Linked DNA regions of Homo sapiens. The protein of the gene in region 3 interacts with the protein of the main gene of each other region in a biochemical or structural test. Each region holds a gene or a part of one and is shown on either strand. Other genes may lie near its edges. The genes, in order: NUDC, DCX, PAFAH1B1 and NDEL1.

Region 1 (7,026 bases), on a different chromosome or scaffold from region 3:
CGAAGTCTAAGCCCCCAGGCACCCACGGTCCCCCAACCCCGTCTCTGAATTGCTCACTTCTTCAGAATCTCCTGTTTCTTCTGTTCGTCTGAAGTTGGCAGCCCCATGGACTTCTGTCGCTGGTCATACATCATCTTTTCCACCATGCTGCGAGTCTCACTGTCCAGGTCTGACAGCTGAGGGCAGGCAGTGACAGGAATCGGTGAAGCTCTGGAAACAACGAGGCCCCTCACCTTCCTGCTGAAGCTCCCCCAACCAGCCAGGGCTCACCTTGGAATTCTCAGGGTTAATCTTCTTGGTGTTGATCTCAGGGTCACTGGACACCAAGCGGCTCCACCACTCCATCTTATTGATCTGTGAAGAGAACAACCAGAGGGTGGGAGGTGGCCTGCTCTGTGCACCAGGAATCACCCCTTAACCCTTTCACAACCAAACTCTCTCCCATCCACATCCTGCACCTGAGACCCTTGCAGGCCTACACTGGATCCAGAGGTACAAGACTGTGCCCTTCCTGCAGCTAGGGGAGACACAGAGGCAAAGAGTTACAAATCAGTGTGATAAGGGAAAGAAGAAAGCAGAAAGGGAGATATTCATCCAGGGTGGAGGGAGAAAAGTTTGAAAGTGACACTCGGGCTGAGTCTTAAGACACAAAGCAGTATTCCAGATTTAAAATGGGAAGAAAATAAATATATATATTTTTTGAGATGGAGTCTTGTTCTTCTTGTCCAGGCTGGAGTGCTGTGGCACCATCTCGGCTCACTGCAACCTCTGCCTCCCGGGTTCAAGCAATTCTCCGGCCTCAGCCTCCCGAGTAACTGGGATTATAGGCATGCACCACCACACCTGGCTAATTTTTGTATTTTTAGTAGAGACGGGGCTTCACCATATTGGGCCAGGCTGGTCTCAAACTCCTGACCTCAGATGATCTGCCTGCCTCAGTCTCCCAAAGTGTTGGGATTACAGGTGTGAGCCACCATGTGCAGTGGTGCAGTCAGCTCACTGCAACCTCCACCTCCTGGGTTCAAGCGATTCTCCTGCCTCAGACTCCCAAGTAGCTGGGATTACAGGCGCCCACCACCATGCCCAGCTAATTTTTTGTATTTTTATTAGAGATGGGGTTTGCCATCTTGGCCAGGCTGGTCTCAAACTCCTGACCTCGTGATCTGCCCACCTCAGCCTCCCAAAGCGCTAGGATTACAGGCATGAGCTACCACGCCCAGCCAGAAAAAGTTTTTAAGCAGGGAAGTGCCAGGTGCAGTGGCTCCTACCTGTAATCCCAACACTTTGGGAAGCCAAGGCAGGAAGATCCCTTGAGCCCAGGAGTTTCAGACCAGCCTGGGCAACATGAGACCCTGTCTTTACAAAAAACATTTAAAAATTAGCCAGGTAGGGTGGCGCTCGCAGTTACTCAGGAAGCTGAGGTGGGAGGGTCGTTTGAGCCCGGGAGGTCAAGGCTGCAGTAAGCCGTGATTGCGCCACTGCATTCCAGCCTGGGTGAGAACAAGACCCTGTCTCAAAAAATAAAAAATAAATTTAAAAGGCAGGGAAAGGGCTGGGCATGGTGGCTCACACCTGTAATCCCAGCACTTTGGGAGGCCGAGGTGGGCGGATCACAAGGTCAGGAGATCGAGACCATCCTGGCTAACACGGTGAAACCCTGTCTCTACTAAAAAATAGAAAACAAAACAGACAAAAAAAAAAATACAGGCATGGTGGCGGGCGCCTGTAGTCCCAGCTACACTGGAGGCTGAAGCAGGAGAATGGCATGAACCCAGGAGGCGGAGCTCGCAGTGAGCCGAGATCGCGCCACTGCACTCCAGCCTGGGCGACAAAGCAAGTGCAGAGGCATGGAGGGGTGAGTGAGTGAAGGCAGCCAGTGCCAGTCGGACAGGCTGTTACAGGGTCTTATGTGCCCTGGGAAGTTCTCCTCAGACCCTTGGCCCTTTTCAGACCACCTTTATTTACTGATCTCTGTGTCCTACCTCTCTGTAAAGGCAGTGAGGTTGAGAATGAAGGCTTCCTGAGGGCACATATTTTCCTATGTTTTGTTCACTGTTCTCTTTCCAGCACTTAGAACAAGAACAGTACCAGGCACAGAGCAGGTGTTCAAGTATTTGATGAATTGAATGCATGTACAAACCTAGTGAAAAAGAAGTGGCTTTAGAAACTAAGACTTTCAATTCTGACTCCACCCCTTCCCAGAGGTAGGAGCTTGGGTAAATCAACGAGCTCTTTTCCTGACTCAAGCCTGTAATCTCAGCACTTTGGGAGGCCAAGGTGTGAAGATCACTTGAGGCCAGGAGTTCAAGACCAGCCTGGGAAATATAGTGAGACCCCCCGGTCTCTACAAAAAAATTTAATAACAAAAATTAGCCGAGCGTGGTGGTGTACACCTGTAGTCTTAGCTACTCAGGAGGACGAGGCGAGAGAATTGCTTGGGCCCAAGGGTTCAAGGCTGCAGTGAGCTAAGAAGGTGTTACTGCACTTCAGCCTGGGCAACAGAGTGAGACCTTGTCTTTAAGAAAATAAAATAGAGACAGATCTACTTTAAAGAGTGTTGTCATGGGGATTAAGATAATCCCACAATGCCCCCAGCATGGCTCCTGAGTAAACTAAGCACACATCCTCCCTTCTACTTCCATCAACACCCCAGGCTAGAAGGGCTGGGCCTCACATACCTTCTCCAGATGCACAGTCACCACCTTGCCGTCCTCAATGAGCCACGAGCTCTCCTCCACCTTCACTTCATTGTAGAGCTCCCCATCAATGATCGCTGGCTGCCCCTTGAGCCCCACCCGGAGGTGCCGCCGCTGGATGTCCACCACCATGTCCTTCCCTTTCAGCCGGAAGTTCACACAGAAAGGGACCGCCAGCTGCATAGGGCAGAGGCAGTCAGAAGAGGCCACTAAGTGCTGCTGGTACCCCAGGCTGGCCCCCTAAGCTTTACCTCTGGTCCCTGACACTCACGTCCAGCTCCGACAGGGTCTGGGTCCAGCGGTAATTGGGCAGGTCTGCCCCGTTGCCTAGGTTGGGCTTCAGTTTTCCTTTGTCCTTCTCATCTTCCTCCTCATCTTCCTCAGTATCCTGCTTACAATCAGGGACACTCAGCTACTTACTTGACAGACAAGACACAGATTGAACCCTCACTGGGCCAAGCCCAGGGCTAGCACTGGGCATACAGCCACAAAAGAAAACAGACCTGGTCCCTGCCCACTCCACAGAGGGGCAGACCCCCAAGCCTTGGTCCACTGGGAACCAGGTAAAACTTGGTTCTGATCTCAGTCTGAGAGGAGCTCAGACTATTAATATTATACCATGTGACAAAGGATATGGCTGGGCCCACAGAACCCAGCCAACCTCAGATGGGACCTGTAATAGGCACTGCCCTCTCTGGCTATTGGGTTTTCTTGCCATAAACAGGTTAAGGTCAGTCGGTTTTTATTTTATTTTTTTGGGACGGAGTCTTGCTCTGTCGCCCAGGCTGGAGTGCAGTGGCGTGATCTCGGCTCATGGCAACCTCCGCCTCCCGGGTTCAAGCAATTCTCTGCCTCAGCCTCCCGAGTAGCTGGGATTACGGGCGCCCACCACCATGCCTGGCTAATTTTTGTATTTTTAGTAGAGATGGGGTTTCACCATCTTGGCCAAGTTGGTCTTGAACTCCAGACCTCGTGATTTACCCACCTCGGCCTCCCAAAGTGCTGGGATTACAGGTGTGAGCCACTGCGCCTGGCAGGTTTTTATTTTTTTAACCTGGATCCTTTGGTTCAATGTCTCTGAGTGTGATCTTAAAGTATGGGGAAGATTCCCAAAGCCAGGAGGGGAGGGGATAGGATAAGGAAGGGTATTCCAGAGAAAGCAGTAGGCAGGAGATTTCCTGTAAGTTCCAAGCTCCTGGCTCATCCCAAGTCCCTGCAGTCCATCTCACCTGCTTCCCTGGGGAGTCAAGGCTGCCGTTCTTGAGCTGGGCCTCATGATTCTCTGCATCCTTTTTCTGGGGCAAAGAGCACAGCAGTTGGCAACAGGACCCCACTGCTCAGTGCCAGGGGGGATCTGAGGGGTGGAGAAGGGAAGCCCACCCTTCACCTGGTCAATCTCTAGCTGCAGCCTCTCTGCCTCTTCATCAGTTAGCTCCTTGATCTGGGGCCCTGAGGTCTCTGACTTGGCTTCCTTGGCCAGTCTGGCCGCCCGCTCCGCCTTCTCCCGCCGCTCGGCCTCCTGCCGGGCTCTCTTCTCCCGCCGGGTCTTCTGTGCCAGCTGATTGTGGTGGCTGAAAGTCTGTGTGATAAGCTGGAGAGGGAAGAAAGGCCATGAGGCATCAGAGCAGGGGACAGTGTCCCACAGCCTGGAGTCCAGCCCCACTCTCTACCTGCTGGGTGCAAGGGCAAAGCACTGCACCCAGAAACTCGGTTTCCTCATGTGCAAAATGAGGAAAATACATCTATCTCATAGGGTTGTAATGACAATACCTGCAAAGCACCTGTCTCAATAAACTGGCTGTTTTAAAAAGTGATGCTTGGCCGGGCGCGCTGGCTCACACCTGTAATCCCAGCACTTTGGGAGGCTGAGGAGGGTGGATCACAAGGTCAAGACCATCCTGGCCAACATGGTGAAACCCTGTCTCTACCAAAAATACAAAAAAAAAAAAAAAAAAAAAAAAAGCTGGGCATGGTGGCGGGGGCCTGTAATCCCAGCTACTCGAGAAGCTGAGGTGGGAGAATCGCTTGAACCTGGGAGGCAGAGGTTGCAGTGAGCAGAGATCGTGCCACTGCACTCCAGCCTGGTGACAGAGCAAGACTCCATCTCAAAAAAAAATAATAATAATAAATAAAGGAATTGGAGACTAATCTGGCCAACATGGTGAAACCCCGTCTCTACTAACAATACAAAAAAATTAGCCAGGCGCGGTGGCGTGCGCCTGTAATCCCAGCTACTCAGGAGGCTGAGGCAGGGGAATTGCTTGAACTAGGGAGGTGGAGGTTGCAGTGAGCTGAGATCAGGCCACTGCACTCCAGCATGGGTGACAAAGCGAGACTCTGTCTCAAAAAAACCAAAACAAAAAAAGTGGCGCTGTTTAAAGTAAAAACTCAAGCCTCAGTCCCTCACAAGCCTTTCCTGAGTTCTCAGGCCCACTCCTCTGACTAATCACTCTTACTCTTAGTGCATCCTGTCTCCAAGACCACAGTCCAGCTATGCAAGACTTGACACCACACCCAAAAAGGACACGTTAGCAGAAAGCCAGGGAGCTTTTTTTTTTAATTTTTTTTTTTGAGATGGAGTTTCACTCTTGTTGCCCAGGCTGGAGTGCAGTGGCGTGATCTTGGCTCACTGCAAGCTCCGCCTCCCGGGTTCAAGTGATTCTCCTTCCTTAGCCTCCCGAGTAGCTGGGATTATAGGCATGTGCCACCACGCCTGGCTAATTTTGTATTTTTAGTAGAGATGGGGTTTCTCCATGTTGGTCAGGCTGGTCTCGAACTCCTGACCTCCAGTGATCCGCCTGCCTCAGCCTCCCAAAGTGCTGGGATTATAGGTGTGAGCCACCGTGCCCGGTCAAAGTGCTGGGATTATAGGTATGAGCTACCGCGCCAGGTCAAAGCCAGGGAGCTTTCTTGAAGGAAGAGCCTGTTCACCCTCTCTCCAGCAAGCAAGCTATCAACTTCAAATCCTTTTTCTCCACTACACCTTCCCAGGAGGTTTCCACTCCAGGATGTGCTAGCCAGCCTCCCTGCTACCCAAGGACAACCCTCCACCCATACTATTGCCACCTGTCATTATTTGGCTCCTGGCCTTAGACAAGTGAACAACTTTGACTCTTTCTAAGCCTGTTTCCTTATCCGTCATGAGGATTGAGTATGACAGCACAAATCAAGAGCCTAGTGAGGTCCACATCACAGGGTTCCCCTGACCTGCAGCATCAGCATCACCTGGAACCTGTTAGAAACGCTAAATCTTAAGCCCCACTCCAGATCTACTGGATCAGAAATTCTGGGGTATGGCCAGGCAATCTGTATTTTTAACAAGCCCTCCTGGCCAATTTCCATGCATACTTCAAAATCACACCTAGATTTGAGTTCCTGGTCTACTCTTACCTGCGTGACCCTGAGGTCATGTCTCTGTGCCTCTATCTTGTTATTATTATTATTATTTTTGAGGCATGGTCTCACTCACCCAGGCTGGAATGCATTCGACCTCCCTGGGCTAAGGTGATCCTCCCACTTCAGCCTCCCCAGTGGCTGGGACTATAAGTACATGCCACCATGCCTGGCTAATTTTTGTATTTTTTTATAGAGACAAGGTTTTGCCATGTTGCCCAGGCTGGTCTCAAACTCCTGGGTCAAGTGATCCACCTGCCTCATCTTCCCAAAGTGCTGGGATTACAAGTGTAAGCCATTATGCCTGGTCTAAGTTATTATCTCTAAAAACAGTCTTGGCCAGGTGTGGTGGCTCATGCCCGTAATCCCAGCACTTTGGGAAGATGAGGCAGGTGGATCACTTGAGGCTGAGGCGGGCAGATCACCTGAGGTCAGGAGTTCTTGACCACCCTGGCCAACATGGTAAAACCCTGTCTCTACTAAAAATCCAAAAATGAGCCCGGTGTGGTGGCACACGCCAGTAGTCCCAGCTACCTGGGAGGCTGAGGTGGGGGAATCACTTGAACCCGGGAGGCAGAGGTTGCAGTGAGCAGAGATCGCGCCACCAGCCTGGGTAACAGAGGGAGACCCTGTCTCAAAATAAATAAAAGCAATCTTGGCATGTGTTGTTCTTTGCCTAGAATGTCTCATCCCCATTCTCAGGTCACCTGGCAAACCAATTCATCCTCCATGACCAGTCAAGTGTCAAAGTTTCACCTCTGGCCAGGAACATACCCTTAGGACACTCAACTCAATGCCAACCCATACACAGTGTGCATGTGCACACATACGCACATACCCCTAGAGGCCTTGCAGGGCACTTGCCATGTGATCAGTGGTCAATAAACCCTCTTTCAAGCATCTCTAAGGCAGAACTGCAGGGAAAGCTCTGCAGGGG
Region 2 (7,026 bases), on a different chromosome or scaffold from region 3:
TTAACATTCTATATTATCAAATCAATTATACTGAGGATGCTTCCCTATTTTAAAATTGGTGGATATAACACATGTGATCAATTTGACCTAATACAGTGCTTTAAAGAACAGCTTCAAGGAGTGGTGATAATTAATGTGTTCCTCCTCAAGCCCCTCCCCCATTATCCAGCCCTCTCTCCTCACTCCTTTCATTCCCTGAGCAAAGGTGAGTTTAAAGCAGGCAGATCTCTAGAGTAACCAAATTATGAAATAACTAACAAGGAAGGAGAAATAGCACCTTAAAGAATTTGATGTGGGAAAAACCTGCCTCTGCTTCACTGCTTCTAAGTTTCTTGTGTTCCTAGACAAAGGAGAATGAGGGTTTCCTTTGTACAAGACACTAGTTCTCTCAAATAGCTGCTGTTGCCCAAGTTGTCAGGCAAAGTGATTGGGACCAGTTACTTATAAAAGACAGTGTCCATATTGTTGCTGCATCTGAGTCTCAAGGTTCAAGTTCGACTTCCTTCCTTTCTTTCTTTCTTTCTTTCTTTCTTTCTTTCTTTCTTTCTTTCTTTCTTTCTTTCTTTCTCTTTTCTTTCTTTCTTTCTTCCTTTCTTTCTTTCACAGAGTTTCGCTCTTGTTGCCCAGGCTGGAGTGCAATGGCATGATCTTGGCTCACCACAACCTCTGCCTCCTGCCTCAGCCTCCCAAGTAGCTGAGATTACAGGCATGTGCCACCATGCCTGGCTAATTTTGTATTTTTAGTAGAGGTGGGGTTTCTCCATGTTAGTCAGGCTGGCCTTGAACTCCCGACCTCAGGATCCACCCGCCTTGGCCTCCCAAAGTGTTGGGATTACAGGTGTGAGCCACTGTGCCTGGCCGAGATCTTTCTACATAGCTGACCTTGAAAACCAATGCCCAGGAAGCTTAGATTATTTCATCATGTGTTCAATGGACAGGCAGTGGTTAATCCTAGGCCCTTCCTGACCATCAAAGGACTGGCCATCCTGGAGCATGTCTTAAAATAAAGGAGAGTCACGGCAACTTTGAAGGGTTTGAAGCTAGGTCGAGGGAGCTGTCCAACAGAGTAATTGTTAGGGTGTCTGTCTTTTGTCACTGTAAAATCCACATCTCAGTCAAATTTCAGGGATTTCTCTGTAACAACTTTCACAGACAAAGCACCCTGTATCACCCAATATGTCCTCATTTCCATGAACTGTGATATTCTAAAGACCACAATAGACATTAGGAAAGAGTACTGAACCAAGTGACATTGTATTCAGACCAAGTATTAGAATATTCTTGTCTCTGATATAAGAGAGGCGTTATGCACAAAATTTCCCCAAAATCCATTTTTTACATGTTGATTTTTCTCCCTAGATATGTGTGTGTGTGTGTGTGTGTGTGTGTGTGTGTGTGCGTATTGATGTATCACGAGGGGCTGGTGATAATCTCTGTTCAACATAGGTAGGCAATAAATGTAACTTTGAAAAGACTGCAGCTTTCTATTCCCTTGATTACCTTTGAGTCATATTAGGTTGAACTCCTCTTATCTGTCACTCCTGGGTGCAGTAGTACTTCTTGGTGAATTCCTGGACTATGTGAAGTGTGAATAGGGCTCAGTTGCATTTGTTCACATGTCATGTACAACTACAAGGCACAGTGGACCTCAATACCCATTTAGTCCTTAGTACTGCCTATTCAGTCAAGAAAATTCAGGGCTATGTCTGGGATAGTGTTAAGAAATGTGATCAATTTTCCCACTGCCACAGAGCCAAATGGGAAAGGGCACTGGGATGAGGAGGATGAAGACAATGTGTCTTTTTCTCTCCTATTTTATATTTTAGAACTGCCCATCTGGGAATGGAGGACAGACTTCCCGGTGTGAAATATCAGGGTCATTGGGTTCTAGTCTTAGAGGCAGCAGATTATAATGAAAACAGAAGTCTTTGGACTCAGATTTGGTTGAAATTCAGGATCTGTCAGTGCTAGCCTGTAAGACCTTGAGGAAACCATCTAGATTCCCTAAGCCTCATTTTGTCATCTGTAAAGTGGGAATAATGGCTTTGAGGATTAAATAAGACAGTAGATATAAAGTGCATATTACTCTGCCTGGCACACAGTAGTGCTTAATAAAAGGTAGTTATTATTGTTTGAGTTATCCTAGTTTATAGCTGGTTAGCTACATGATCATAGGTTTGTTCTTATCATTAATGTGACTCATGTTAATTATTTTTAAAATAACTCTTTAAAAAAACAAACAACTGTATTAAGGTATAATTTGCATAACATGAAATTTACCCATTCAAGTGTACAATGATTTTTAGAAGATTTATCAAGTGGTGCAACCATCATCATAACATAATTTTGGACCATTTTCATTTCCTCAGAAAGAAACCCTATTCCAATTAGTTGTCACTGCATATTTTCTCCAATCTCTTCAGCTCTAGACAATGGTTAATCTACTTTCTGTCTCCACATATTTGCCTATTCTGCGCACTTCATATAAATTGAATCAAATACTATGTGGTCTTTTGTGCTTCTTTGACTTAGAATAATGTTTTCAAATTTTATCTATGTTGTTCCATGTATTGGCACTTCTTTCCTTTTTGTTGAAGGATGATATTTCATGTATATGTAGACCACCACATTTGTGTATCTCTTGTGAATAATATTTTTAACTGTAAAATGGGACTAGTAACACCTGCCTTCTCTATCCATTAGGGTGGTTGTAAGGTTAAACTTAGATAATAGATATGGAAACATATTGACAAGGTAAAATTATAGCTACAGGTACTATTATTATTAATGATGTGAAAATACTAATAATGGAAATAATAATAATAATGATTATGACAATGATTATGTTAGTAAGGGATTGTAATGGTCAGTGGTTTCCAAACCCGGCTGCCTTTCAAAATCTTTCAGAGCTTTAGAAAAATATTACATTCCTGGGCCACACCCAAGATCTATTGAATCAGAATCCCCAGGGCTAGGGCCCCAGTGTTTGTGTTTTTACAAATCTCCTCACATGACTTTTATGAGCACTTAGACTTGGGAAGTATTAGACTGGGTGATCTTGATGGTTCCATTCACCTAACTAAAGTGGTAGGAGTTTTGAGACGTGCAGAAATCTGTTTTAATTTTTTTCTTTTTACATCTTAAAGGAATAATAGAGCATAGAACACACTGTGTTTTCAAATGGCCACATTATTACATTTTTAGCCTAAAAATAAATGAAATTTAAAAATAATTGGTTAATAATCACTCTGGCCTTGTGACACTCCTTTGTCTAGTGCCTCTTGTCTACGGTTTTCTGCTAGATACAGAAAGTATCAAGGGAAGCATTTTGGATCAAAGGTTATTGATGTCAGTTTTCCCACAGTCCTTGGGTACACCGAGGGTCTTAGTGAAGCCATGTAGGATATGGTCCTCATTAGCTGTATCCCAAGGAGGTCAATGAATAAAATCCACTGGTGGGTTTTCCTTTTGTCATGTCTTTGTTTTTTTTATTATTTTTTTATTTTATTTATTTTTTTTAGAATCTTTCTCTTTCCCTTTATATCTGGTCCAATTCTTTCCCCATTTTCTTGTATGTAAGTATCCAGATCAACCTTGGGGATATCATTTATGACTAGCCAGCTTTTCTGAACCCAAATTGAGACAAGTTCAAGAGTTATTACACAGACCATGGGACAGAATATTTACAATTGGAACAGTCTTAGAAAATCCGAGCTGTGTAGTCACACTGGCTATGATCCAGTTCTTTTACCATAGCTCATATGTTTCATTGAGATGAATCCACCTTCTCACTAATTTATTCTCTAACTACTAAAGCAAGTACATTGTCAAACACAAGAATTTTAAGATACCTGGGAGGGATGCATTGCTAATAGATATGATAATCAAATGTCATTTAATATTTTAATATAATACAGTAAAGTGTCATTTAATATATTCCTTCTTGAGTCAGGAAGCCCTGGAGAAGAGGAGAAAACCCAGGCAGAAGCTTGCTTTTGCACTGAGAAGATACAAATATATATAAAATGCTTTTGAAAATGCAGCCTTCTTAAAGAGAAGGGAGGTAGACATTAGATCATCTCCAGCCCACAGCTTGTTTCATTTCTGCCCTTTCAGCTGTGCTTCCATGATTTCATTCCTTATCCCCTCACCCTAAAGCAGGTTTTTAGTTCCAGCGAATTTGCACCCTGCTTGGCTGTGAAGCCAGCTTTCCCTCTAGGCCCCCAGCTGGTAGGAAATAGCCCTTGGAAGCTGTGGCAGGATGGGAACCCAACTGTGTAAAGGTGCGACACACCTCATCCAGCTCCAAGTGCCAGGCAGCAGGAAGTGCAGGAGGCACTGAGCTCTGGCAGCAGACATTGAAAATGCTGGCAAAATCAGGACAAGGAAGTCTTAGTCTAGCAAAGAAGAGCATTTGATGTCTTTCTAGCAGAAGTGAAGAGTCCTTGGAGGTGGGCAGCTATTTTCTTAACATTTAATTATCCTAACAGCTTTGTTTTCTGAAGCCTGTTTGAGAAGGAAAAGAGAAGATTCCTCCCTATAGACTCTAGGACCTAGAAGGGACTCAGGTGTCACCTAGTGCATTATCTTTGCTTTAGAGAAGGCAAAGCTGAGACTCAGAGACATTAAGTGATTTCCCTGAGGTCACACAGCTTTTAAGTGCCTAGTTGAGATTTGAATCCAGGTCTGTGTGACTCCTAAGTCATCACTCTTGACGACGATAAATATCCTGCTCTCAGCGGGCCTCTGCAGAGGCAGCAGCAGCTTTACTGGGTGTTAGCATAAATCTCCTACATTTGGCATTTGCCACAACTGGAAGCCTCCTTCCAACCAGCAGGAAATCTTATCCTTGAATCACAGGCCCCCAGCAGTGCTCATGTCATATCATAATCACAGCTCAGTTCCTAGATGGTTGCCCTTGATACTTTCTCTTTTTTTTCCTCTTCAGCTTCTATTCCTCTTTTTAGTCTCTTTCTCTCAGCAATTTTTTCCTCTTTTCCTCTTTGCTCTTTCCTTCTTGTTCTCGCTTCTATTCCGTAAGATTAGGGGCTTAATAATAACAGAAATTTATCAAGTGCTTACTATGTTCCAGGCTCTGGGATCAGCATTTTATTTTATTTTATTTTATTTTATTTTATTTTATTTTATTTTAAGACGGAATCTCACTCTCTCCGTCACCCAGGGTAGAGTGCAGTGGTGCGATCTCAGCTCACTGCACCCTCTGCCTCCCAGGTTCAAGCGATTCTCCTTCCTCAGCCTCCCTAGTAGCTGGGATTATAGGCATGTGCCACCACGCCCAGCTAATTTTTGTATTTTTAGTAGAGATGGGGTTTCACCATGTTGTCCAGGCTGCTCTTGAACTTCTGATCTCAAGCGATCCACCTGCCTCAGCCTCCCAAAGTGTCAGGATGACAGGCATGAGCCGTCGCACCTGGCCATGGGTTGAACACTTTTTATCCATCATCTGATTTGTGCCCCACAACAACCCCACAAGATAGGTATTCTTATTATCACCCTTGCTTTGCAAAGAAGAAACTGAAGCCAAGGGAGGTTAGAGTGCACAACTAGGAAGTGTTGGGGACCCCATCCTGACTGACATCACATCAGCTGCGCTTTTTCCATTACTCCATATTCAGCCCAACGAGAGAGTGGAGTGACTAAAATGTACCACTGGAAGGTGCTCAACATAGATTTGGCTGAGGCTGGGCCCTCTGGAAAGTTCTTGGGTGCTATATGATACTATAGCTGTCAGTCATCATGTTCATTTTCATCTGGAGACGGTTAATCATACTCATACTCCAGAGGCTTAAGAGGTTTAAGAGATGGGAGCAAAAAAGTCCAAAGTCCTAATAGGGCTACACAGCTGACTCTCCAGAGGAGACTGGATGAGTGAAATCATAAATATATAGCTTCACACATTTCCACACCACCATTTGTCTGACAGTTTTAAAGTACATGACAAGTTATGGAAAACATCTGACTCAAAGGCAGTGACCTCCTGCAAGGTGCCAGTGAATCTGGTGAACTGCTAAGTCAAGAGACCATTTCTAGGGTTATGGGGGTTATTGGCTGTGAATATATGGAGACACTAAAAGGGCCCCTTCCTTCATCCTTTTAAGTCAAAAATTAAAGACCCCAGCCTATAATTACTTGGGTTGGGTTGAATTAACCAGCAAGGGAGTCAAAGAAATCAGAGCTTCTCTTGGCTGAGGTATTGACCATCTCATCCTGGGTGTCCATGTATGCACCAAGTGGGTAAGGGTGCCTATCCTCACTTAAAACCATCCCTTTGTCCCCCTGTCAAGATAGAACTCTGGGACTGAGGGCAGCTTTGGAAGTCACTTTGCTTATGTTGGATGCCACTTACCCTCCCCCTCCGCACACACACACACACACACACACACACACACACACACACCACGCACACACACACACACATACACACACACATAAATGTCCTCAAAGGTACACTAGAGATTTTGACTGAAACTTCTCTTAGCATTACTGAGAAATTTATTCATTAACATGTCTTAAAGGATTTGGTGCTATGGCAAAGCAATAAATATTTGCAAAGGGAGTGAATTATCAACCTGGTGTTTCTGAATGCAGTTCTCCTGCTGAGACCAAAGGAGAGCCATCAGACTATAATTGTGTTTAATGCTTTCTGTGCACTGGCTAGGGTTTATTTATTTATTTAGGGTTATTACCGATGACTTAAGCCTGATTAAATCACACTGTTTCTGCAGCTCAACCTCTCAATGAACTTCTAGATACCTTGAGGCTAATGTGTTTTACTCAACGAATTCAACCTTTTCCAGTATTCTCTTCCCCAGGCTGAGCCTATCTCTCTTCCTATTTTCTTCAGCTCATAGTCCCAGGTGTCCAGTCCCCTCCTCTTGCCTCTGATCCCTGCATTTCTTTTGCGATATTAGTCATTTCCTCTAGCCCAAGGTAAATGTGAAAATTACACTAGATCCTTCCAATCCATAAATCAGGCTGTATAATGTATTCTCACTTCTTTACCTC
Region 3 (7,026 bases):
ACAAAGATTATTTACTTTTTGTTTTTTTTTTTTGAGACGGAGTCTCGCTCTGTCGCCCAGGCTGGAGTGCAGTGGCGCGATCTCGGCTCACTGCAGGCTCCACCTCCCAGGTTCACGCCATTCTCCTGCCTCAGCCTCCCGAGTAGCTGGGACTACAGGCGCCCGCCACCACGCCCGGCTAATTTTTTGTATTTTTAGTAGAGACGGGGTTTCATCGTGTTAGCCAGGACGGTCTCGATCTCCTGACCTCATGATCCGCCCGCCTCTGCCTCCCAAAGTGCTGGGATTACAGGCGTGAGCCACCGCGCCCGGCCAAAGATTATTTACACTTTAATTTAAACCCACAGAGAGATCACCTAAAAGAAGACCACAGAGGAAATAAGCCATTACACAGAAATGCTTCTCAAGGACATAGAGTCTCTCCTTACAATGTCTCTGTGCTCCTTTTTGGGAGACATGTACAGATCAAACTTAGTTTTAAAGTATATTTAATATGACTGTCATAATGATCATTCCGGGTTAAAGTCGAAGTGACTGCAACACCAGAACACAATTTTGTTTTTTATAAATATGTCTTTAAGCTGATGCCTTTTCTTTTTTTTTGAGACGGAGTCTCACTCTTGTTGCCCAGGCTAGAGTGCAATGGCACGATCTCGGCTCACTGCAACCTCCACCTCCCAGGTTCAAGTGATTCTCCTGTCTCAGCCTCCCAAGTAGCTGGGAATACAGGTGTGCGCCACCACACCCGGCTAATTTTTGTATTTTTAGTAGAGATGGGGTTTCATCATGTTGGCCAGGCTGGTCTTCAATTCCTGACCAGGTGATCTGCCCACCTTGGCCTCCCAAAGCGCTGGGATGACAGGTGTGAGCCACTGCACCTGGCCGCTGATGCCTTTTCAACTAAACTTACTTACCCAGTTTGCACTTCCCACATTTTTATAGTTTTATCCCTTGAGGCAGACACTATATGATCTCCATTGGGCATGATGGCTACTGAAGAAACATTGTGGTCATGGCCTAAAACACATAACAGCAATATATTATGAAGTAATATACCACCAAGAGCAATGAAACATCAATTGACCATGGGATTTTACCATGGGGTTTCACTATGTCAAAGCAAGTTCTAAATACACTGGATTTTATACAAATTGGATAAGAAACCTGGATTTACACGATAAAGTTAAAAAAATCAGTAAAACAACAACCCACAAGGAAATAGTCAACTCCATTTAGGATTAAATTTCAACCTGTACAAATGGTTTAAAAACAAAAGGCATCACGATTATCAACATTTGAATATATTCATATACTTACCTCAGTGAGTCTGAATGTTTACATATGAACGCTAGGGAAACATTTTTTTTTTTTTTTTTTTTTTTTTTTGTGAGGCAAGGACTTGCTCTGTTACCCAGGCTAAAGTGCAGTGGTGCAATCATAGCTCACTGTAGCCTTGAACTCCTGGGCTCAAGAGCTCTTCCCGCCTCAGCCTGTCGGGTAGCTGGAACTACACAGGTGTGTACCACCACATCTGGTACCACCACACCCACAACTATTTTATTTTTTGTAGAGACAAGGTCTCCATATTTTGCTCACACTGGTCTCGAACTCCTGTCCTCAAGCAATCCTTCCTGCCTTGGCCTCCAAAAGTGCTGAGATTATAGGTGTGAGCCACTGTGCCTAGCTTCTAGGTTGATATTCTAAGATATAAAAAAGATAAAGCAAATGGATACAAAAAATGGGGAATTGGTTCTCTGTTTAAAATGGTGGGCCAGGCGCAGTGGTTCATGCCTGTAATCCCAGCACTTTGGGAGGCCGAGGCGGGCGGATCACCTGAGGTCAGGAGTTCAAGACCAGCCTGGCCAATATGGTTAAACCCTGTTTCTACTAAAAATAAAAAAGTTAGCCGGGTGTGGTGGTGCTTGCCTGTATTGCCAGCTACTTTGGAGGCTGAGGTGGGAGAATCATTTGAACCTGGGAGGTGGAGGTTGCAGTGAGCAAAGATTGTGCCACTGTACTCCAGCTTGGGTGACAAAGCAAGAGGCCATCTCCAGAAAAAAAAAAAAAAAAAAAAAGGTGGTGTTGGGGGTAAAAAAAAAAAATGCATTAGAAAGAACTCTTTTTAAAGTTACAGCTAGAAGATACAGGCAACTTAAAGAAAAATAAATGATAGACCTTACGTGGCTCACGCCTATAATTCCAGCACTTTGGGAGGCTGAGGCAGATCAGGAGGTCAGGAGTTCGAGACCAGCTTGACCAACATGGTGAAACCCCGTCTCTACTAAAAATACAAAAATTAGACGGGCGTGGTGGCGCGTGCCTATAATCCTAGATACTCAGGAGGCTGAGGCAGGAGAATCACTTAAACCTGGGAGGCGGAGGTTGCAGTGAGCCAAGATTGTGCCACTGCACTCCAGCCTGGGCGACAGAGTGAGACACAGTCTCAAAAAAAAAACAACCAAAAAACAACAACAAAAAAACAGTGTTCATGCGTGGAATTCCTGTAATTATAAACTTCCCCAATGCATTTAATTTGGGACAGAGAAAACACAACCTTCAAATTATGCCCTCTAGGTAAACACAGTTTACTCATGTGTTAACGTGTTCCTTGTACAAAATCCCAACATTCAAATGTCATCATGTATAAAGAAACAACAAAAATCCCTAAGTAATGAGCATCTCCTATGTGGCAGGTACTACACCAAGATGATTTATCTTATGACTTCATCTTATCCTCATGACAACTCTATGACTCTGGTATTATTACCTCTGTTTTGCAGATGAAAGAGGTTTAAATTTTCTAATACCGTAAGTAGACAAGTAGGAATTTGAACCCAGGTGTCTGACTCCAAAGCAAATTACTCTCTTTCCACAAAACATACTGCCTCAGAAAACAGTTCCCACAACAAGACCCGGGAAATAATGAACGAGGGCATGGGGTCTGTGCGCTCAGCTCATTTCACTTAAGTGAGCAAGAGAATCTGGGCTCGTTTTCACTCGACCTACTCTCTCTGGACTTCAGTTTCCCAACTAACAAAAATTAAAACACAAACAAAACCATTTTTAACTCAAATACAGATAAATGACCTGGCAGTTTTTCTTACCAAGAAATACTCATACAAATATTTTATGTAAAGTACTAAAAGATACTTAAAACTTCCTAATAGAAAGCACTCTCAACTACTGTGGCTTATCCCTGGACTATCTACATGGTATGCTCTTCCACCAATACTGACAATTAAGAGGTGAATAAAGGAACACTGTACACTGTTAGAAACAATATTCCTTCTGAAGTACCATGATAGAAATTACTGTTAAAGCACTATCCTCTACCCCTTACCGTGCATGGTTCTGATGCATTCAAAGCCCTGAAAATCCCATAGTTTAATGGTCATATCTGCAGAACAGGAAGCCAGAAGCTTGCCGCTGTGGTCGAATGAAATGTCCTGTACAGAGTCTGTATGTCCTTTAAGAGTTCGTTCAAAATCTCCAGTCTCATAATCCCACACCTGTCAAGTGAACAGAAAATTGGTTAACACCAACTCCATCACTCCTTTCTTGTTTCACATTTGCACTCAGCAGGCCAGTCTGGCACCTTACTGAGTAACTAACCGAACAAGTAACAAAGGATAACTATTTTAGAAATATTGTATCTCATGTATAAATTGGTCTTTTTTTCTACAGGGAAAACTAATGTTGCAATTATTAAAATCTATCTCTAGAACCACATTTATAAGGTTTCTATCACATAACCAACTGTAATAGTGATAAGGTATATAAAGTCACAAGACATAGTCCGCTCCCTGTCTCAGAGCAGGAATGACATGTAAATAAGGAAACTTAAGGGGAAGAAATAAGAGGAAAGAAAGAGAAAGAGATGGAAAGGAAAGGGAAAGAAAGGGGAAAGGGAAGGGGAAGGGAAGGAGCTTCAGAGGGCTATAGCAGGCATTTGTATGTAGAATATTTGAGGAACAATGGATGAATACTCGATCCTACTAGACCATCAGAACTCAGACATCTAAAGGGCCAAGGAAAGATTTCAGAAGATGTTAACTGTTCACGAATAGCAAATGAACAAGAGCATATGTCATTTTGAGTTAAAAAATGAAATATGGCCGGGCGCAGTGGCTCACGCCTGTAATCCCAGCACTTAGGAAGGCCAAGGCGGGCGGACCACGAGGTCAGTTCGAGACTATCCTGGCTAATATGGTGAAACCCCGTCTCTACTAAAAAACACAAAAAATTAGCCAGGCACAGTGGTGGGCGCCTGTACTCCCGGCTACTCGGGAGGCTGAGGCAGAATTGCTTGAACCTGGGAGGCGGAGGCTGCAGTGAGCCAAGATCATACCACTGCACTCCAGCCTGGGTAACAAGAGTGAAACTCCATCTCAAAAAAAAAAAAAAAATTCTAATTGCTGGCTAAATCACTATTATAGAAAACATTATAGTGAACATTTTTTAATATAAAAAAATTCTGTCCTCATTTTATAATACCTAGGTCAGACAGTAATGGGGAGAAACAATTAGTGGGTCAAAAAGTATAAACTTTTAAAGCCTTCATATACTCTATTAAATTGATATCCCGTAAGACTGTATCATATGTAATGAGAATGACTACTTTATCAAAATCTTATCATCACTGGGAATTCTTATTTAATAGGTAAAATACCTTGACAATTTGACACACATATATATGTATGTGTGTCTCACTCTTGTCGCCCAGGCTGGAGTGCAGTGGCGCGATCTTGGCTCACTGCAAGCTCCGCCTCCCGGGTTCACGCCATTCTCCTGACTCAGCCTCCCGAGTAGCTGGGACTACAGGAGCCCGCCATCACTCCCGGCTAATTTTTTGTATTTTTTAGTAGAGACGGGGTTTCACCATGTTAGCCAGGATGGTCTCGATCTCCTGACCTCATGATCCACCCACCTTGGCCTCCCAAAGTGCTGGGATTACAGGCATGAGCTACCGTGCCCAGTCCAATTTTTTTGTTTTTAAGACAGGGTCTCACTCTTCGCCCAGGCTGGAGTACACTGGCTCAATCATAGCTCACTGCAGCCTCCAACTCCCAGGCTCATGTGATCCTCCCATCTCAGCCTCCTGAGTAGCTAGGACTACAGGCATGCACCACCATACCTGGCTAATTTTAAGTAGAGACGAGGTCTTGCTATGTTGCCCAGGCTGCTCTCTAACTCCTGAGCTCAAGCAGTCCTCCCACCTTGGCCTCCCAAAGTCCTAGGACTATAGGCATGAGCTACCACACCCGGCCCATAATTTCAGTGTTTATTTCTTCTGCTGTTAGTAGTAAGGCCAAACCGTCGTTACTATTTGGTTAGTTGTAACTACCTTTTTGAGACAGTCTCGCTCTGTCGCCCAGGCTGGAGTGCAGTGGAGCGATCTTGGCTAACTGCAACCTGTCTCCTGGGTTCAAGCGAATTTCCTGCCTCAGCCTTCCAAGTAGCTGGGACTACAGGCGCACGCTGCCATGCCCAGCTAATTTTTTTGTATTTTAGTAGAGATGGGGTTTCTCCGTGTTGCTCAGGCTGGTCTTGAACTCCTGAGCTCAGGCAATCCACCCGCCTCGGCCTCCCAAAGTGCTGGGATTACAGGCGTGAGCCACCGTGCCCGGCCGATTGGTTATACTTTTGTAAATGAAACTTAATATCTGTAACTTACTTTGAAATAACCCTTAGGATAGAGGCATCTACCTAAATCTACCTATATTGCAACTATCTTATCTTTCTGTAGGTGGTTTATACAACGGTCATTTTATTGTGTCCGGAACAAAGGCAACTTAAAAACAACTCTTTTCCTAATTAAAAAAGCACAACATTAAAAGGTAATAATATTTTTACTGTGAAAAAAATTTTTTAATGAAATACGTAATTTATAAAATGAAAAGCTTGTATATTCCCACACTCCTGGAAAGCCAATTTTAAATACATCAAGGAAAGCCCAATTTAAATGAATCCTCTACTGAATTCTTTTGCAGTATAGATTCACCCTATCAATTACTAGTTTTGTCAATCAGTATTTCACACATAACCTCCGTTTAAAGGTAAGACACACACTTTTCATTCTCCAAGAACAAAAATTGTTCAAGCACAAGGTGATGTACTGACATCAACTCAGTTAGTGACACCCGACTTTCTCAAATTCACCATCAAACTTACCTGGCAGCATGCCTCTCAGGAGCCACAATGATATTTTATTCCAATTCTGTCTTTTAAGATTTAGAACCAAATCACACGTTTCAGAGTACCTCCTGTCCCTCTTCATAGGCCCTCATTTTCAGGATCTTTTAATTTTCTTCACCCTATTAAGTCTGCTTTTTTTTTTTGAGACAGAGTGTGGCTCTGTCGCCCAGGCTGGAGTGCAGTGGTGCAATCTCGGCTCACTGCAAACTCCGCCTCCCGGGTTCATGCCATTCTCCTGCTTCAGCCTCCCGTTAAGTCTGCTTTTAACAAAAAATTACCTTAATTGTAGCATCCTCTGAAGCAGAGACCATAACACTGAACACAGGATGGAAAATGACTCGAGTGACTGGACTCCTGTGACCACTCAATGCATATTTTTCTGGCGGACGGGGAATCCATTCTTTTGGGTCTCGTTTCTGACCAAGAGGTCCACCTGACGTAAATTCTTCTTTTGCTTCATTTAGCTTTGATTCTAATTCCATAACCTTGAAAAAGAACATGTAGTTACGTACAGATAGATTTCAATAAAAATAGCATGTGACATTTTAAAAAACTGCCTTTATTTTGCAACTATGTATGTAGGATACTTGAAAAAATTTCAGTAATCTCCAAAGCATTTGTCAAATTTAAATGAAAATTATTTATTTTGTACAGCATCAAAATCTAAGTCATGTGAGGAAACTAAAAATTGAGAAAAATTCAGTACAATTGCCTTAACTCTTTAACAAAAAGAAAAATTTCGATTTGTATCTGGTGACAGAGTCCTCTACTAATTAGAGAAGGGCAGTGAATTTGTCTTGGTCCCTCTAAGGCTGCTACTCTTAGTAAGTT
Region 4 (7,026 bases), 5.8 Mb from region 3:
TGGCACACACCTGTAATCCCAGCTACTTGGGAGGCCAAGGCAGGAGAATCACTTGAACCCAGGAGGCGGAAGTTGCAATGAGCCAAGATCGCACCATTGCACTCTAGCCTGGGCAAAAAAAGCAAAACTCTGTCAAAAAAAAAAAAAAAAAAGAGAAGAAAAAGAAAAGAAAAGAAAGAAAGGAAGAAAGAAAAAGAAAGAAAGAGAAAGAAAGAAAGAAAGAGAAACAAACATTGTAAAAGGTAAAATACAATTAAAGACAGACCACTTCAGAAAGATCAGCTCTAAGATCTTACCGATTTCTCTGACCACCTGCTGCTGCTCACAACTCTGTGCTTTCTTGTAATGAAATTGCAGTGATCTAGTACACAGCAGCTTTTAGGTTAGCCAGTGAAAATTCATGCTATTGGTTCCAGCCTAAAAACATATCTATTAAGCAAATATTACTGCCATAGGGTTGGCACACCTCATGCCGTGCCACAGCAGGCTCCATGTCCTTTTGACTCCCCAAGTCCCTGAATGAAAACTCTAACGGGCTATTAAAAAAAAATGTGCACCACCTGTGGGTGTCACCGCACCTGAGGCTTTTCACTATTCTGATTCGTCTTCAATTAAAGGATTTTCAGATCTGCATAATTCTAATCAGTAACATAAAAGTAAAACTTTGTTAGTCCTCAGGTGTAATTGTGAAATCTTCAAATATACAAGCAGCTCTTCTGAAAAACTGACCGTGAGGGCTCCTGATGACTGCTAATAATCTATTGCCTGCCCTTTGTCCTCAGCAGTAAACCTAGCGCAATTAGTAACACCTTACAACCATACAGCACCTTCACATACCTTATCTGATATCATCTCGTAACAAGGCAAAGACAAGTTGAATTACCTACTCAAGGGTTACTGAGCACTTGAAATGTGGTTAATGTGACAAAGAAACTGAATTTTATATTTTATTTCATTTTAATATAAATTTAAATAGCCACATGGGCTGGTGACTATTGAGTAGCACAGACAGAGAGAGCTCACTGTACTAGTTGCCCACATAGCATTCTAAAAGATAAAACCCTATATTTTAAAAAGGGTGGGATGACAGCTTCAATATAGGGTGGAAAAAAAAAGCAAGGGGGGATGAGAGTAGCAGAAATATGAACTACGAGCTGCAAAATCTAAACAAATCTCAATTGAGAGCTTTAAGATTCCATTTTAAGGTTCTATCTAGTGGCTACTAGGTGGTTTTTCTGCTTATCCGGATTTTAAAAAAACACACTGGTTCATGGCAATGTGAGTATTCTGTATGTGCCAATCATCAATTACTCCGAACAATGCTTTTGAAAATGGCAGCTCCTGAAGCATGTAACAGAATGGGCATGTCCATCCAAGCCGGTCTTACATGAGTCTGAAAGATAACTTAATGATTCTCTGTACATTCTATGTAGAAAGGCCTCAGGTCTCCCATGATATGGAAAGTGGCAAAAGGAAGAAATAAAACTGTGTTTAAATATGATCCCCAAATTTGCATGTGACAAAGAGATGTGCACAAACACACACAAGCACACAATAGAAAAAAAAACTCAAAATGTTAATGGTGGGTGCCTGTAAGTGGTAAGATAACATGATTTTTATTTTCTTTTTCTGTGTTTTTAAAATTTTCTACCTAAACATACGGCTGTAATCACAAAATCTATTGCTATCATCAAAAAATAAACTTTCCTTAAAAACCTTTAACTTTTAAAAATCTCATCTTAAATGTAACCATCATTTCACTGTTTCCTATATATTAGTGGCCTAGGAAAACAATTCCTTCTTCTATTTCACATAGCACTAGACTTCACCAACTTTTAAACTAAAATTACTCTTTAAACCTTAGCAACCGCCTTCAGCAACAAACCCCCGTAAGCTGATCATCTAACACATCGCCTCAAAAAGAAAAGACATTACAAACCTTTCGGTGAAGGAAAAGTGTTCTCCGTTCCTTTGCCAACAGGGGTAGCTGGCAAAGAAAGTGATGCTTGGACGGCGGAGTCCATCTTTTCACAGTCTAGAGTTGGAGAGCTAGGAGCCGACTTTCTAGTTACTTCCTGTTGTCTTTCCCGAACTGCTAGTTCTTGCCTTAAATCTGTAAAATATTGCAAACAAGGGCAGGAATACTCACTAGAGGGAGCAAATATATCAAGCAAAGTGACATCTAAAATGTCATAAAGGTCTTCTTCCTAAATTACTATTTCTCAAAAATGAATTTCCTATTTAAGTATAACTTTCATTTCTAGGGGAATAAAAATGGCAAAACTACTGTCTAAATGATCTTTTAGAATTTAAAAATGCTATAACCTGAGAGAAGTTACTTATGCTTATATGCAAAAAGAAACAGTGCAGAGTCCACAGTACAATTCACACAAAAGTAAATATTCTTCACCAACTTATTTGCTTTTATTTTCAAATGATGTAGTTTTGGGGTTATTGCAAAATCAACTAAGTGCATTTTTGTAATTTTAAATGGGCTGGCATTAACTATTATCACTATGAAATATTTACTTTTAGAAAAGAAGTATTCAGAACGGTTTAAATTTTTCTCATGCTTTCAAATATTGAGCGTTTTTTTTTTTTTTTGAGACGGAGTCTCACTCTGTCGCCCAGGCTAGAGTGCAGTGACGCAATCTCGGCTCACTGCAACCTCCACCTCCTGGGTTCAAGCGATTCTCCTGCCTCAGCCTCCCAAGTAGCTGGGATTACAGGTGCCCGCCACCACACCCAGCTAATTTTTTTTTTTGAATTTTTAGTAGAGATGGGGTTTCACCATGTTGGTCAGGCTGGTCTCGAACTCCTAACCTCAAATGATCCACCCGCCTCAGCCTCCCAAAGTGCTAGAATTACAGGCGTGAGCCGCCACACCCAGCCAATGTCGAGTTTTTAACCCAAAATTAATGTTATCTTTTCCAATTATGCAATTTAACTTACAGAATATTTGCTTGTGTTAAAAAAGGAACAAAGTCATCCCCCTTTTGGGTATGTATCCAAAAGAATTCAAAACAGGATCTCAAAGAGATATTTGGACACCCATGTTCACAGCGGTATCATTCGCAATAGCAAGAGATGGGAGCAACTCGATGTCCATCCACAGATGAACAGATAAAGAAAATGAATACATACAATGGAGTATCATTCAGCCTTAAAAAAGAAGGAAATTTTGTCACATACTACACATGGATAAACCTTGAGGACATTATGCTAAATGCAATAAACCAGTCACAAATACTGTATAATCTCCCTTATATGAGGTATCTAAAGTAGCTGAACTCATAGAAAATAGAACTGTGGTTGCCAGGGGCTGAAGGGAAGGGAAAATGGGTAGTCACTATTCAATAGGTATAGTTTCAGTTTTGCAAGATGAAAAAGTTCTAAAAATTTGTTTACACAACAATTTGACTATACTTAACACTACTGGACTGTACACTTTAAAATGATTAAGAAGCCAGGCACAGTGGCTCACACCCATAATCCCAACATTTTGGGAGACAGAACCAGAAGGACCATTTAAGGCCAAGGGTTCAAAACCAGCCTGGCCAACATACTGAGACTGTCTCCACAAAAAAAATGTTTTCTTAATTAGCTGGATGGGGCCAGGCGCGGTGGCTCACGTCTGTAATCCCAGCATTTTGGGAGGCCAAGGCGGCCGGATCACGAGGTCAGGAGTTCGAGATCAGCCTGGCCAATATGGTGAAATCCCGTCTCTACTAAAAATACAAAAATCAGCTGGGTGTGGTGGCGGGCGCCTGTAATCCCAGCTACTCGAGAGGCTGAGGCAGGAGAATTGTTTGAACCCAGGAGGCGGAATTTGCAGTGAGCTGAGATTGTGCCATTGCACTCCAGCCTGGGTGAAAGTACGAGACTTCGTCTCCAAAAAAAGTTGACTCTAAGCTTCTTCTGGCATAGGGACAGTAAGGTAAGGGAGGATAAATACAGTTGTCCCTCAGTATACATGGGGATTGGTTCCAGGACCCCCACCTACACCAAAATTGGCGCATACTGAAGTCCCACAGTCAGCCCGTATATATGAAAAGTCAGCCCTCCATATACAGGGTTTTGAATGCCGTGAATACTGTATTTTCAATCCACATTTGGTTGAAAAAAAATCAGAGTATAAGTGGGCCCACACAATTCAAACCCATGTTGTTCAAGGGTCAACTGTATTCTTTAAGTTATAAATTTTACCTCTTGCTTCATCCTTTAACCTCTGTACAGAGACCAACAAAGATTCCTTTTCATCAAGTTCACTTTCTAAAAATGCATTTCGTTCAATGGCCTGGTTTAGCCTTTGTTCAAAGTCTTCCAGTGAAACTATTGTTGCCCTAAAAAGAAAAATTAGAGTACATGAATTAAATAAATAACATGTGCAAACAGATAGTACAAAAGGAAACTGTCAGTTTATCTCGTGACATTTCCTGACCTAGCCAGCCTGGCCCCAATCAAAGAAGATGATCTTGCCCCTTCCTGACCACTGCTGGCACGTAGTGTCTCTATCAGTTGGGCAATATATACAATACATTCTTTTAAATTCCCATCTATTCCTTAATGTTCCCTACAGAAAGGCTATTTGTTACACTATTTATATCTCCACTGTGTTTTGAACACAATACAATCAAGTTTACACATTTTCAGAAAGAAAACTTTTCAAAACTTGTAATATATGTAAGAGTTTGTTTAAAACATTAAGTCCCAAGTCAGGGAACCTAAGGCCAATTCACACTGACTTCCTAGAACTAAATCAAAAGGAAAACCGGAACTTTCCACACCTAAGTAAGAAAAGGACCAGAAGCTATTCCCTTTGCTTTCTGCAACCACTCAGACATTTGCATAGGGTGTCACTTTGTAACTTCACTTCAGCCTCTGATTGGTTCCCCCACTGCCCCCCCCCCGCCCACCTCCCCGCAACCAATCTGGCTGCTGCCTCCTCTATGCCCTGGAGCAGCAGCTTGCCCACTTTTTTTTACTAGGGTATTAACATAGTGAATGTACATATCTGTCACCCCCAAGGGTAGTGACCAGACTAGCTCCGCATCTGTAAGTTTAGCATCATGTCAGTCACTTAAGACTCACTGGATAAATATTAAGGAAGGAAATACCAGGAAACAATTATAAAGTAATAGGAATTAAGTTTGGAATGGTTAAGAAACAACTAATTACACATGCATAAAAGTTTGGCAACAGTGATAGCAAGCCACTGCACGTTGTTCAGAAATTTGAACTGAAATCAACATTTTAAGAAAATTCATCAGTCAGTATTAAAAGAGAATAAAAAGGAACAGAAATATAAAGATATATCAGCTAGAGGATAACTACAGAATCCAGGTATAAGATATGAGGACCTACAGGAAGTATGGAAGTGTTAAGAGCACAGAGGGAAGATGGGGGAATGCATGAGACAGTTTAAAAAATAAATAAATACACAAAACCTAGGCTGGGTGCAGTGGCTCATGCCTATAATCCCAGCACTTTGGGAGGCCAAGGTGGGCAGATCACTTGATGGCAGGAATTCAAGACCAGCCTGGCCAACATGGCAAAACCCCGTCTCTACTAAAAATACAAAAATTAGCTGGGTGTGGTGGCACATGCCTATAATCCCAGCTACTTGGAAGGCTGAGGCACAAGAATCGCTTGAATCTGGGAGGCAGAGGTTGCAGTGAGCCGAGATCATGCCACTGCACTCCAGACTGGGCGACAATGTGAGACCCTGTCTCAAAAAACAAAACAAAACCAATAGGATCAACCACAGTATATGAAAGAAGGAAAAAAGAAAAATTGAAAGAGAAAGCTTTGAAGGGCGTTATCTGGGAGATGAGGATTTGGGGTTCCCTTCCGTCCGATGAGTTACAGGTGACATGAAACACCAACAGGAAATGTTCTGGGACTAAGATCTAGGGGAAGAGCCTAATAAAGATTTTAATCACTAATTACCAAGGTGGTTTTTTTCTAACAAAATGCAGTCATTCGTTTACCTTTTGGCTCGCTCCAGGTCGTCGTTGGCCTGCTCCAGCTCTCTCACATACTTATGCAACTGCTCCTTAATGGCCCGAGTCTGACTTAAATCATCTTCTAACACTGAGACCTGCTTATAGCTCTGTGCATATTGATGCTCTAGCTTCTCCTGAGGGCATCAGTATAGGAAAGTACATGTCATTAATATACAGTTCTCTTTACTAAAGAGGTAACTCAAGTTAAAAGGGTGGGGGGGAACCCAAGGAATTTACCCACACTCTTGTAACAATTACTTTAAAAACAACTAAATGACACATTCATTCTAAGTGCCTAAACTCATGTTAAATTTTGTCAACCATTCTCCTCTCAGAAAGAAACCCAATAACAATCTCTCTGAAAAGAACTAATATAAAAAATCCTTGCCTCAAAATCCGCAAACTTGTTAAGGAAACCTCTGGATTTTCAGGCTAAATGCGGCCCAGGGTAAGCACAGAGTTCACATTCCCTACCTTTCACCTGCCCATCCAACCTTCCCAGAACCCACCCACTCCCCAGACACTAAATACCCTCAAGCATGTGGCTACAGTAGATGGTAAAGGGCAGAGAAAGGGGTGAATCCTTTTGCTCCTGAAAATTCCTTTTTAGAAGGGAAATTTTTAACCCTAACTAAACTCCAAAACTGAAAGGGCTATGAACAATAATGAAATAAATGCATATTCCCTATCAATATAATTGTAAACATACTGCAGAATGAGGCAACCTATCTGTCAAAACAAATAATCAGGCAGCTTTTGAAAATTATAGGAACTATAATATAATATAGCTAGGAACATTATAGCTAGAAAAGTGACAACTACAAAGTTTCTAAGTGAACTCCTAAACTCTAAACCACCTTTTCCCCTGGTTCCGTGAAAGAAAACATTTTATTCAAAAATTCACTTTAAGCGTTTTTTTCAAACTATTTTTTGTCGCCAGCTGCTCTTAAGCACCTGAAAAACATATTTCTCATTTTAATAAAACTCAACACATTAGACCCCAGCGTCTACTGCTGCAATT

What was found.
Region 1: the proteins of PAFAH1B1 (region 3) and NUDC form a complex in vitro, tested with the Homo sapiens proteins (3 studies listed by BioGRID).
Region 2: the proteins of PAFAH1B1 (region 3) and DCX form a complex in vitro, tested with the Homo sapiens proteins (2 studies listed by BioGRID).
Region 4: the proteins of PAFAH1B1 (region 3) and NDEL1 form a complex in vitro, tested with the Homo sapiens proteins (3 studies listed by BioGRID).

Annotation. Positions count from the first base shown.
Region 1 is NC_000001.11:26,938,718-26,945,743, reverse strand, and holds part of NUDC (nuclear migration protein nudC), read right to left. Parts: intron 4,288-7,026; coding exon 4,084-4,287; intron 3,992-4,083; coding exon 3,926-3,991; intron 3,085-3,925; coding exon 2,968-3,084; intron 2,874-2,967; coding exon 2,679-2,873; intron 355-2,678; coding exon 271-354; intron 177-270; coding exon 58-176; intron 1-57. UniProt on the Homo sapiens protein: Plays a role in neurogenesis and neuronal migration. Necessary for correct formation of mitotic spindles and chromosome separation during mitosis. Necessary for cytokinesis and cell proliferation.
Region 2 is NC_000023.11:111,402,175-111,409,200, reverse strand, and holds part of DCX (neuronal migration protein doublecortin), read left to right. Parts: intron 1-7,026. UniProt on the Homo sapiens protein: Microtubule-associated protein required for initial steps of neuronal dispersion and cortex lamination during cerebral cortex development. May act by competing with the putative neuronal protein kinase DCLK1 in binding to a target protein.
Region 3 is NC_000017.11:2,666,646-2,673,671, reverse strand, and holds part of PAFAH1B1 (platelet-activating factor acetylhydrolase IB subunit beta), read right to left. Parts: intron 6,681-7,026; coding exon 6,474-6,680; intron 3,510-6,473; coding exon 3,341-3,509; intron 1,018-3,340; coding exon 915-1,017; intron 1-914. UniProt on the Homo sapiens protein: Regulatory subunit (beta subunit) of the cytosolic type I platelet-activating factor (PAF) acetylhydrolase (PAF-AH (I)), an enzyme that catalyzes the hydrolyze of the acetyl group at the sn-2 position of PAF and its analogs and participates in PAF inactivation.
Region 4 is NC_000017.11:8,445,867-8,452,892, reverse strand, and holds part of NDEL1 (nuclear distribution protein nudE-like 1), read right to left. Parts: intron 6,140-7,026; coding exon 5,991-6,139; intron 4,344-5,990; coding exon 4,207-4,343; intron 2,114-4,206; coding exon 1,940-2,113; intron 1-1,939. UniProt on the Homo sapiens protein: Required for organization of the cellular microtubule array and microtubule anchoring at the centrosome. May regulate microtubule organization at least in part by targeting the microtubule severing protein KATNA1 to the centrosome.